2 separate regions of the Homo sapiens genome follow, and region 1 is linked to region 2. Evidence: fine-mapped expression QTL. A gene starts in region 2. The other region holds a variant in brackets. All regions are shown on one strand. Distances are from middle to middle. Region 1 holds the start of LOC124904768 (a long non-coding RNA gene). Region 2 holds the start of TSEN34 (tRNA splicing endonuclease subunit 34).

Evidence for each region. PIP is the estimated chance that this variant, and not a neighbour inherited with it, causes the effect.
Region 1: its variant is fine-mapped to the expression of TSEN34 in whole blood (TOPMed, PIP above 0.99).

The regions. Positions count from the first base shown.
Region 1 is chr19:54,216,926-54,222,283 of GRCh38, reverse strand. It overlaps LILRB3 (leukocyte immunoglobulin like receptor B3), which reads left to right. Exons shown (of 13, transcript NM_006864.4): 3 at 1-6; 4 at 154-456; 5 at 905-1,201; 6 at 1,454-1,756; 7 at 2,079-2,129; 8 at 3,039-3,155; 9 at 3,446-3,521; 10 at 3,602-3,639; 11 at 3,871-3,923; 12 at 4,810-4,965; 13 at 5,045-5,358. The coding sequence ends at 5,191. It overlaps LOC124904768 (a long non-coding RNA gene), which reads right to left and starts at 3,389. Exons shown (of 3, transcript XR_007067339.1): 1 at 2,680-3,389. RefSeq lists enhancers at 3,727-4,562, 4,563-5,358. The variant A/G (reference allele first, on the strand shown) is at 2,441.
Region 2 is chr19:54,188,640-54,193,997 of GRCh38, reverse strand. It overlaps TSEN34 (tRNA splicing endonuclease subunit 34), which reads right to left and starts at 2,690. Exons shown (of 4, transcript NM_001077446.4): 1 at 2,391-2,690; 2 at 2,034-2,277; 3 at 1,625-1,882; 4 at 1-823. The coding sequence starts at 2,633. The coding sequence ends at 636. MBOAT7 (membrane bound acylglycerophosphatidylinositol O-acyltransferase MBOAT7) reads left to right here and starts at 4,418. Exons shown (of 8, transcript NM_024298.5): 1 at 4,418-4,660. RefSeq lists enhancers at 1,238-1,754, 3,723-4,404, 4,405-5,090 and a silencer at 2,599-2,800.

The DNA of each region.
Region 1 (5,358 bases), 28 kb before region 2:
TGACAGGTGAGAGGACACTCTGGGGTCCCAGCCCCAGGCTCTGCCCTCAGGAAGGGGGTCGGCTCTCAGGGGCGTCTCCCTCTCACAGCCCAGCCCTGGGGATGATGTGGGAGGTGGGAGCCCCATTTAACACGGTGCCTCTTTCTCTCCTAGGATTCTACAACAAACCCACCCTCTCAGCCCTGCCCAGCCCTGTGGTGGCCTCAGGGGGGAATATGACCCTCCGATGTGGCTCACAGAAGGGATATCACCATTTTGTTCTGATGAAGGAAGGAGAACACCAGCTCCCCCGGACCCTGGACTCACAGCAGCTCCACAGTGGGGGGTTCCAGGCCCTGTTCCCTGTGGGCCCCGTGACCCCCAGCCACAGGTGGAGGTTCACATGCTATTACTATTATACAAACACCCCCTGGGTGTGGTCCCACCCCAGTGACCCCCTGGAGATTCTGCCCTCAGGTGAGGGAGCCACGGCCTTGTCTAACACACTTTCGGGGCAGCTGACAGGTTGTGGGGAGTTTGGCTGGTGACTGAATCTGGAAAGGACCCAGAGTGATGTGTTGAAGGACGGGCTGAAGGCATGAGGGAGACCCCATGGGGAGGCTCTGACATGGGAGGAGGAGCCCTTGACCACGTTCACCTGGAAGGGGAGGACTCAGGAAGGCATCGGTGTGTTTGCTGTGAGGTCCCAGCTCTCAGGGAGAGGAGGAAAGATCAGGCACAGTGGCCAGGGCTAGGGAGACCCCACTCCTCTGAAATGACTCCAAGACAGCCCCGGGTGAGAAGGAGGCCCTGGGGTCAGAGACTCAGAGCGTGAGAGACAGTGAGACCTGCAGGGCCAGGACGGGAGAAGGAAGGGGCGTGGGAGGAACCAGCCCTCTCAGTCCTGGCTCCTCTTTCCCTCCAGGCGTGTCTAGGAAGCCCTCCCTCCTGACCCTGCAGGGCCCTGTCCTGGCCCCTGGGCAGAGCCTGACCCTCCAGTGTGGCTCTGATGTCGGCTACGACAGATTTGTTCTGTATAAGGAGGGGGAACGTGACTTCCTCCAGCGCCCTGGCCAGCAGCCCCAGGCTGGGCTCTCCCAGGCCAACTTCACCCTGGGCCCTGTGAGCCGCTCCTACGGGGGCCAGTACAGGTGCTATGGTGCACACAACCTCTCCTCCGAGTGGTCGGCCCCCAGTGACCCCCTGGACATCCTGATCACAGGTGAGGAGCCCAGCGGGTTCAGTCAGGGACCCAGGCTCTGCACAGGCCCTGCCGGGGGAGCCCAGGTGGTGATGGCCGGGATGAGGGGTGGGGGTCCCAAGGGAGGGAGAGACAGACAGAGACAGGGGATGGGGGGAGGGGAGACTCAGAGAAAACAGGGACAGAGACACTGAGGGTCCCAGGGAGAGGCCTGGGGAGGTGTCAGCTCAGAGCAAGGTGGGGCAGCCCCTCACCCATCCTTCTTCTCTCCAGGACAGATCTATGACACCGTCTCCCTGTCAGCACAGCCGGGCCCCACAGTGGCCTCAGGAGAGAACATGACCCTGCTGTGTCAGTCACGGGGGTATTTTGACACTTTCCTTCTGACCAAAGAAGGGGCAGCCCATCCCCCACTGCGTCTGAGATCAATGTACGGAGCTCATAAGTACCAGGCTGAATTCCCCATGAGTCCTGTGACCTCAGCCCACGCGGGGACCTACAGGTGCTACGGCTCACGCAGCTCCAACCCCCACCTGCTGTCTTTCCCCAGTGAGCCCCTGGAACTCATGGTCTCAGGTGAGGGCGCTGACCCCGTCCTCTCTGAGCTCAAAGGCTCAGCTCCGGCCCAGGCCCCCAGGAGAGCTCTCGGCTGGGATGGACCGAGGGAGGCTGTGAGGGAGGCTTAGCCAGAGGGCACCCAGCCCTCAGAGGGGAGGAGGCCAACAGGGGTTCTCCTAGGCGTGGCCACCCGTTCTCCCCTGCCTGGCATGCAGAAGGCACCAGGTGGGCAGAGAGATGGTTCCAGGGAATCCACTGGGCGGAAGCAGGAGAGTGGGAGTGGAAGGGTGCACTCCATGGACGGCCCCCGCCCCTCACCCGCCTCCCGTGCTCCTTCCAGGACACTCTGGAGGCTCCAGCCTCCCACCCACAGGGCCGCCCTCCACACCTGGTGAGTCACTGAGGCCTCTTGGGGAGCGCCGCCTCCCCCAGGGCAGTCTGAGTCTCCCAAAGGATCCCACTCCCCTCCCCTCAAGGACGGGCTTGTGTCCCAGGGGCTCTGAGGCTGGGCTGGTGAGGGGCGGGGGTCGAGGCAGAGGGAGATGTTGGGGCCCAGCCAGGAGGAGGAGCCGGGCTGATGTGGGGGGCAAGACAGCCCCAGCCTTCACCTCCCTGTCCTGACCCAGGAGGTCCTGAGGACCAGCCCCTTAACCCCCCAGGGTCAGGCCCTCAGAATGGTGAGTGAGGGGCTCTGAGTGGGAG[A/G]TGGGCGGGGTCCAGGGGAGGCAGGGGTGGGTTCTGTCCTAGGTTCAGGCTCCTCTGGAGGTGGTGATGTGGACAGGCCCCTCCCCTGCCTGGGCCTCAGTTTCTCCAAGTGTAAAGGAGAGAGGCCTGTGGGTGGGAAAGTTCCTTTCAGCTCTGACCCCCAGCTGTGACCTCCTGGGAGAGGAGGCCTCCCAGGGAACCTCCCAGACCCGATTCCACAGGGGCCTGTCCCGTCCCACCTGCAGCAGTGACGGTGACCTGGGGCAGGGGAGGGGAGCAGGGCCGTGGTTCAGGACGGTCAGGCTCTTTCCCTGCAGCTCCGGGTCTCGGCTCTGGTGCAGGAACAAGGGCTGCAGGTCAGACTCCCGGGCTCCCTTCCCAGCTCTGCCGCTTCCTCGCTGGAGGCCTGGGGCAGGCGACTCCCTGCTCTGAGCCTCAGTTTGTGCATCTGTGAAATGGGTTGTACGGGTGGCAATTCCATGTTGCACGACTGCTTGTGAGGGTTGGAGGTCACGAAGGAAAGACCTGGCTCGCGCCTGCACACAGTAGGTGCTCACATCAATGACATCATTCCCACTCCTGACGTCCTCATGTCAAGGTCTGGGAAGATACCTGGAGGTTTTGATTGGGGTCTCGGTGGCCTTCGTCCTGCTGCTCTTCCTCCTCCTCTTCCTCCTCCTCCTCCGTCAGCGTCACAGCAAACACAGGACATCTGGTGAGTAGGGAAGCGGGGGACCCATGGGTCGACCGAGGGTGGGCTCAGGGCACCAGCCAGAGGGAACCCAAACACACAGGGGTGTCAGTTTAGAAAACCGGTTCCAGGGGCACGTAATTTCAATACGCATTTACAAACTTCAGTATTCATGGGAGTTTTTTTCTATCTCATAAAATATTTGGAACATCCATGCAGGAATATTTTTAGTTTTCCTTCTTTCCCTCAAGTTGCATGTGTAGAATGGGAGTTCTAATGTTCCCAGGGCTGAGACTCTGTCCATCTTCACCCAGACCAGAGAAAGACTGATTTCCAGCGTCCTGCAGGGGCTGCGGAGACAGAGCCCAAGGACAGGGGCCTGCTGAGGAGGTAATTCTGCCCCAAAGACCACAGACTCCCACCCACCACAGCCCATACACTGCCCCTCACACTCCCATGTCCTCCTCCAGGTCCAGCCCAGCTGCTGACGTCCAGGAAGAAAACCTCTGTAAGAGGAAGAGAGGGGACAAATGGGGGTGCTGGAGAGACAGGAGTCCCAAAATTTCAGTAGCAACAGGGAGGGGCTGGGAAGGGTCTGGGGCTCCGTGGAAGATGGTCTTGCCCCACACTGTGGGACCTCCCTGCATTCGGTGGCCCCATCTGGGAGCAGGGCAGGGGGCCAGCAGGACTGAGAGGTCTCAGAGAACCAGGAGACGAACCCCTTGCTCTGCCCCAGCAGATGCTGCTGTGAAGGACACACAGTCTGAGGACAGGGTGGAGCTGGACAGTCAGGTGAGATCCCGCCCCGTCCCAGGCACCAAAGGCCTCCTGGTGCCAGATCTAATCCTGCAGGACTTCTCTGTCCTCCTTCCCCCGGCTCTCAGCATCGTCACGGTGGACCCCTCCTTGTCCAGCATGCTGCCTCCCGCCTGCTGTGACCTCACTCTCTTCTGCTGTCCTGGGACCTCGTGGGCCTCCTCCCGGGTCCCCTTCCTGCTCCTCATCCTCTGTTTGGCCGTCTGGTTGTTAGAGCTCTCCCCAGGCCTCAGGAGGATGACGAATAAATGAACCACCTCCGTCCCCTGGGCTCCTCTTCATTCATTCATCCAGCGAGTGTTCCCAGGGAGCTCACTGTGGATGGGGCTCCCCATGGGAGCTGCAGACACAGCAGGGAGCAAAGCCGCCCCCGCCTCCTGAGCTCACCTCACGGTGGGAGACAAAATGCAAATAAATGCATCGTGTCCAGGAGTGCAACGTGCTGTAAGGAACATACACCAGGGAAAGGGCAGAGAGTGTGGGGCAGTGGGGCCAGTCTGAATGGAAGGGGAGGGCTGTCTGCTCAGCTGTCATCTGAGAAGCCTGGACAGAGTGGGGCACATGATCCTCTGATGGACGAGCCCCTGCAGGCAGAGGAAACAGCCGTGCAAAGGCCCCCAGGCAGCAGCGAGCTCTTGCAGGAAGGCCTGTGAGGCTGCAGCCAAATGGGCAAGGTCAGAGTGAGGAGCAGAGGCCAGAACCACAGGGAGGGAGCGGCCAGACCCTCCACGGCCTTAGGGCGTCCCTGAGATTCCATCAGGAAAGGGATGTAATCGGATCACCCCGGGAACAGTGAGGAAAATTGACTCCAGGAGGTCAGGGGGACTCAAGGACACCCCCCACCACTGTCTCTCTCCAGCAGAGCCCACACGATGAAGACCCCCAGGCAGTGACGTATGCCCCGGTGAAACACTCCAGTCCTAGGAGAGAAATGGCCTCTCCTCCCTCCTCACTGTCTGGGGAATTCCTGGACACAAAGGACAGACAGGTGGAAGAGGACAGGCAGATGGACACTGAGGTGAGTCCTTTCCTCTCCAGGCCCCCAGGCCTCCCCCACCCCCACCACGTTCCTTACCTCTCACTCTCCCCCGCTGCAGGCTGCTGCATCTGAAGCCTCCCAGGATGTGACCTACGCCCAGCTGCACAGCTTGACCCTTAGACGGAAGGCAACTGAGCCTCCTCCATCCCAGGAAGGGGAACCTCCAGCTGAGCCCAGCATCTACGCCACTCTGGCCATCCACTAGCCCGGGGGGTACGCAGACCCCACACTCAGCAGAAGGAGACTCAGGACTGCTGAAGGCACGGGAGCTGCCCCCAGTGGACACCAGTGAACCCCAGTCAGCCTGGACCCCTAACACAGACCATGAGGAGACGCTGGGAACTTGTGGGACTCACCTGACTCAAAGATGAC
Region 2 (5,358 bases):
ACTCCTGGGCTCAAGCGATCCCCCTGCCTTGGCCTCCAAAAGTTCTGTGGGATTACAGGTGTGGGTCATCGTGCCCAGCCTATATTTTTATTTATAACGTTTGTATGCATCTGGGAAATTTCATAGAAATCTTTTCAAAAGGAAGTTTAGTGAGGTAGAAAGAGTGCAGATTTAGGAGTCAGAAAAACCAATTTTGAAAGGCCAGGCCTGCTATTTACTAAGTGTGTGACTTTGGGCAAGTCAGTCCCCCTCCTCCAGGCCTTTTTCTCACCTGTACATGCAGATGAGACCATCCACGGGTTCCAGGACTGTCGCAAACATTCAAATCATGAACATTTATATACCAAGTTTATTGAGACCTCCTGAGACTTAAACCCTGTAGAAAACAGATGAATCAAACCCAGGCCCCATTCTCGGGAAGCTCACAGTGTGAAAATAGGTAACTACAAAAACACAGCCAATAAGTGCTTTGAAACAAGGAAGAACATAAAAAAGATGTAGTGTTCGAAAACCTGGAATCAAAAACTAACCGCGGAGAAAGGTAGGAGGATGTTCTAGACTCCCAGAGAAGAGCTGGGGAACATCCAGAAAGGCTCTTGCTGCCGACACAGCCACATCCCCTAGGTCTCTGGAGTTCACTGCAGGCTGGCCCATTGCAGGGAGGTGTAGACCACCTTACCATCAGGCTGCGGAGAACAGAGGAGCAGGGTCTTTCTGACGCTGGTTCCAAGGCGCCCAGCAGCAACCAGGTCTTGGAGTGGGATGGTGTCCTCAGGGGCCCAGCACTGAGCGATATAATGGGCGTGGAAGCGGAGGGGGTCACCTGGGGGAAGGAGAGAGGCACTGAAGCAGTGACCAATGGCAGACGGCTGGACGCCACGGGAACGACCACTGGGAGGAGATCTGAGATCATTTCAGCCATCACTATAGATACTCTAAAACAGATGCTCTTGGACACAACTATTCCACTTCTAGGCTTTTTTTTTTTTTTTGAGACAAAGTCTCGCTCTTGTCCCCCAGGCTGGAGTGCAATGGCACGATCTTGGCTCACTACAACCTCTGCCCCCTGGGTTCACATGATTCTCCTGCTTCAGCCTCCCGAGTAGCTGGAAATACAGGCACCCACCACCACGCCCAGTTAGTTTTAGTATTTTTAGTAGAGATGGGGTTTCACCATGTTGGCCAGACTGGTATCAAACTCCTGACCTCAGGTGATCCACCTGTCTTGGCCTCCCAAAGTGTTGGGATTACAGGCGTGAGCCATTGCGCCCAGCCTGATGTCTAACTACTTCTAAGTGAATCTTCTGGATCACAGTAATCATTTAATAAAAGTCGTTAAACTGCTTGCCCAATGAGTTCGGGAGCTCCCAAATGTTTCCTGTCTGTCTATGAATTTCAGAGGCTAAGAGAAAGTGAGACAAAAAAGAAAAATGCAGCTGGGCCTATAATTCCAGCACTTTGGGGGGCCGAGGTGGAAGGATTGCTTGAGCCCAGGAATAGGGACCAGCCTAAGCAACAAGAGACCCCACCTCTATTAAGACAAAAAAAAAAAAAAAGAAAAACGCAGAATACATTGGGATCGTATGGAAAGGCACAGCAACCAGAGGCCCCAACCCATACTCACCAGGATAGACCAGGAAGTCACCTCCGAACTTGCCAGCCGCACTGAGGAAGAAGCCTCGCTCCCACAGGTCTCTGTAGATACTGTAGCGCAGCTCGTGGGCAGGGCGGCCGGCGTGGGGCCAGTCTTTAGACTGGACACGCCAGTCCAGGGGCCTGGCCTTGACCGGTCGAGGCCTGGCAGTGGCCAGCTGGACAAGGAGAGCAGATCTGGGCAAGGGGGCTACCCCATTTGAGGGTCCTGCTTGGGAAGACGAGGGGCCTGGTGGGGAGTACAGAGAAGAGTTTGGTAAATTCAAGGGGTAAAGTCTTCTCACCCTCAGGGAGACCCAGGCACTGGATTCCCAGCTAAAATTCCTAAAAGATCTCTCCTCTCCTTCCCGTGGTCCCTGGACTCCACCTCCCATGCTCACCAGCTTCCTCCTGCTCTCCCGAAGCCTGGCCATCACTGGTCTCATCCTCTTTGGCAGCCTGGCTCGAGCCGGCCTCCTGGCTTGAGCTGGCCCCTGAAGCCTGTTCTAGTTTCTGCTTCTTAGCAGCCTGGCCCTCCGTAATCTTCTCCAGGAGCTCCTGACGACGGGTCTCCCGGGCCTCAGCTGCCAAGGCGCTCTGCTCCTGGAAGCTCTCCTCTTGCTGGCGCTTGAAGGATGTCAGGGCCTGAGAAGCACACTTCGCTGGAACCTCCAAGCTTATGGTCCCTTCAGAAGCCAGGAAACTTGACTCCCAGGTCCCGCTCCCACCGAACCCGAGTTCGAGCCCCGCCCCCTTACCAGGCTGTGGTGCCGAGAGTCTGGACGCGGGGCGCTGACCAGAGTCACGGCGCCGATCTCGGCCAAGAGCCGCGCCTCTTCGGGCATCAGCAGCAGCGGGAGGCCCAGGCGCGAGTTCTGGCGGGGCCCGCGGGGCAGGGCGCCTACCGTGCGGCCCCCCACACCCAGGCGCTCCCGGAGGGCCTGCACCGCCTCGGCTCCCCACACCAGGGAGCGGCCGTTCGCCACCTCCACCACCAGCATCCTCCTGCGGGAGCCGGGAGGCAAAGCAGTTACCGAAACAGCTGCGCGCCGCGGACCGCTGCAGCGCACCCAAAGCCTCCGGGGTCTCGGCGAAGCCCCGCCCCTAGGCCTCAGGGGGCGGGGCCTCGCTCAGCCGCCGTTCACCACCTGCTGGGCCCGAGCGCCAGGCCCCGCCCCCGGGCGATCCCACCAGGCCTCGCGGCCGCCGGAGACGAGACGCCGGAGACAAGCCCCCGACCCTCTCCCCTCGCCAAGCCCCCAGGGTCCCGCTCTACCCTTGTGACCCTGCGGTCGGCACCCGCTCTGTGCCCGCACTGCCGTACCTACCATTGCGCCTTGGAGCGTGAAAAACAAACCTCCGCAAGCGCGGCGACACGCCCCCTTACAAAGGTCCATTTTGGCACCACCCTCTTGCAAAGTGGGCGTCCCCCTTCGGGTGTTCCCGTCAGCGGTCAGAAGCTCTGGAGGCTAAGGCACCGCCGAGGCCACACCCTCTTCCGGACGCTCGAGCCTTCGCTCCTCCTCTTTCCGAACGACTGTGATTCGGCTTTCGGACCTCCTCGCTCTCAGACTCCCACAGTACAAAACCCTGCCCCCTCCCGAGCACAGGAAGTTCGGCGTTCGGGCGTCCTCGGCTCCACCGAATCCGCAGCCCCGCCCCCTTCTCGAACGCCAGCAATTTGACGTTCGGGTGTTCTCGGCTCGGCCGAATCCGTAGCCCCGCCTCCTCCCGGACGCAATAGGTTCGGCGTTCGGGCGTCATCGGCTCCCGGCAGCCTCGCGGCCTGTGGCCCCGCCCCCTCCGAGCGCCAGCGCACCCCAGTTGGGGAGTTCCCGCCCTACGACCGAACCCCACAGCCGAAAGCCCCGCCCCCTGGACACCCGCCGTCCACTCTCCGCTCGGGCGGGCTCACCCCAATTGGGAGCGCTCAGTCCGCCTCCTTGCCTCCCTTCAGAATGTCCCACTGTCCACCGATAGAACCAGCGAGTCACCTCATAAACAGTAATTCGCAGTCGAGGTGGAGCCACCCACTGCGCACCGCGCCACGCGCTCCTTGCTCCACCCCCTCATGCCGACACCCTCGTCAACTTCGTCATCCCGCCCCATCAGCGCCGCGGGAAGTCAGGTCCCGCCCCTCGCAGGACCGAAGCCCCGCCCTCCTCCCGCGGGGGCCACCTTGGCTCCGCCCCACTGAGCGCACCTCCCTCTGCCGCTTCCTCTCCTCTACTTGGGAACTTGAGGATCGTCATCCTGGCCCGGTCCCGTAGGCGCACGCCGGCCCTCGGGGTTCCGCCCCTTTGAGGGCAAGTCGCTTTCGCCCCGCCCCCTTGTAAATACTCATGGGTGTCTGGCGAACCTGTTGACTCCGCCTATCATCCTAGCGTCACTTGTACCCAACTATCTACGAAGTAAACCGAAGCTTGTGGCCCCACCCACATCCGGCCGAGTCTGTGGCCCCGCCCACATCGGAACAGTGACCCTAAGGACTCGACTACCTCCGAAGAAAGCCGAAACATGTGGCTCCGCCCACAGTGGCCTCAGCTCTCCGTTCTCGACTATTGCCGAAGTGAGCCGAAGTTTGTGGCCCCGCTTCCGGAGAACTCAAGCTCCCGATTGTGCCCGAAGGAACCCGAAGGGAGACCCCGCCTCATTCCTCACGCCGAGCTCCAGACCCCGCCTCCTTTCCAGAGCCCGTCTGTTCCCCTTCGGGTCCAAAGCTTTTGGCTCCTCCTTGTTCCGAGCCCGAAGGCCCGCCCCTTCACGTACTCGGAGCTCGGATCCCAGTGTGGACCTGGACTCGAATCCCGTTGCCGACTCGCGCTCTCGGCTTCTGCTCCGGGGCTTCTTCCCTGCCCGCCCGGGGCCCTGACCGTGGCTTCTTCCCCGGCCTGATCTGCGCAGCCCGGCGGGCGCCCAGAAGGAGCAGGCGGCGCGGGGGCGCGCTGGGCGGGGGAGGCGTGGCCGGAGCTGCGGCGGCAAGCGGGCTGGGACTGCTCGGCCGCCTCCTGCCCGGCGAGCAGCTCAGGTGGGCCAGGGTGGCGGCGCCCAGTGGCGAGGCGAGGTTACACGGCGGCAGGGTCTCTGCGGGCTGGCGGGTGCGGGGCGGCCCCGGAGGCGCGTTGGAACTCGGGGCTGGCGCAACCGCCTGTGGCTCTGCCGGGGATGCGCTGGGGTGCGCGGGACGGGTTGGGGCTGGGCCTGGGCCTGGGCCTGGGGAGGGGAGGGTGTTCGATCCCCGGGTTCTCAGTAGGAGAGGGGTGTGGAGCTCCGAAGGAGGTGCAGGTTGGAGACCCGGGCTCCTCTGGGTGGTCTCGAAGGAGAAGGGCTGGGGGGTCCGGATATCTGGTTTCACAAGGGCCGGGGGATGGGGGATCCAAAGAGGGGGTCTGGGTTCCTGGATCCTCGCTGGAAGAGGGGGCTCGGAGGTCTAGATTCCTGGGCTGTCGAAGAGGAAGGGTCCGGGAGGGGTGCCGTTTCTGGGTTTTTAAAAGAGGGGCGTCTTCAAATCTGGGTCCCCAGTATGGGTGCGGGGAGTAGCTTTGATTTCTGCGTTCGCAAAGGAGGGGCTTGGGTGCTGGGAGATCCCCACACTTTCCTGGGTTCTCCAAGGACAGGAGAGCTGGAGGCCTGTGCGCTCAAAGGAGGGGCTGGGGGTGGATTCCTGTCTCCTCCAAGGAGGAAGGGGCTGGAGTCTGGGTTGCTAGGTTCTCAAAGGAGAGGAGC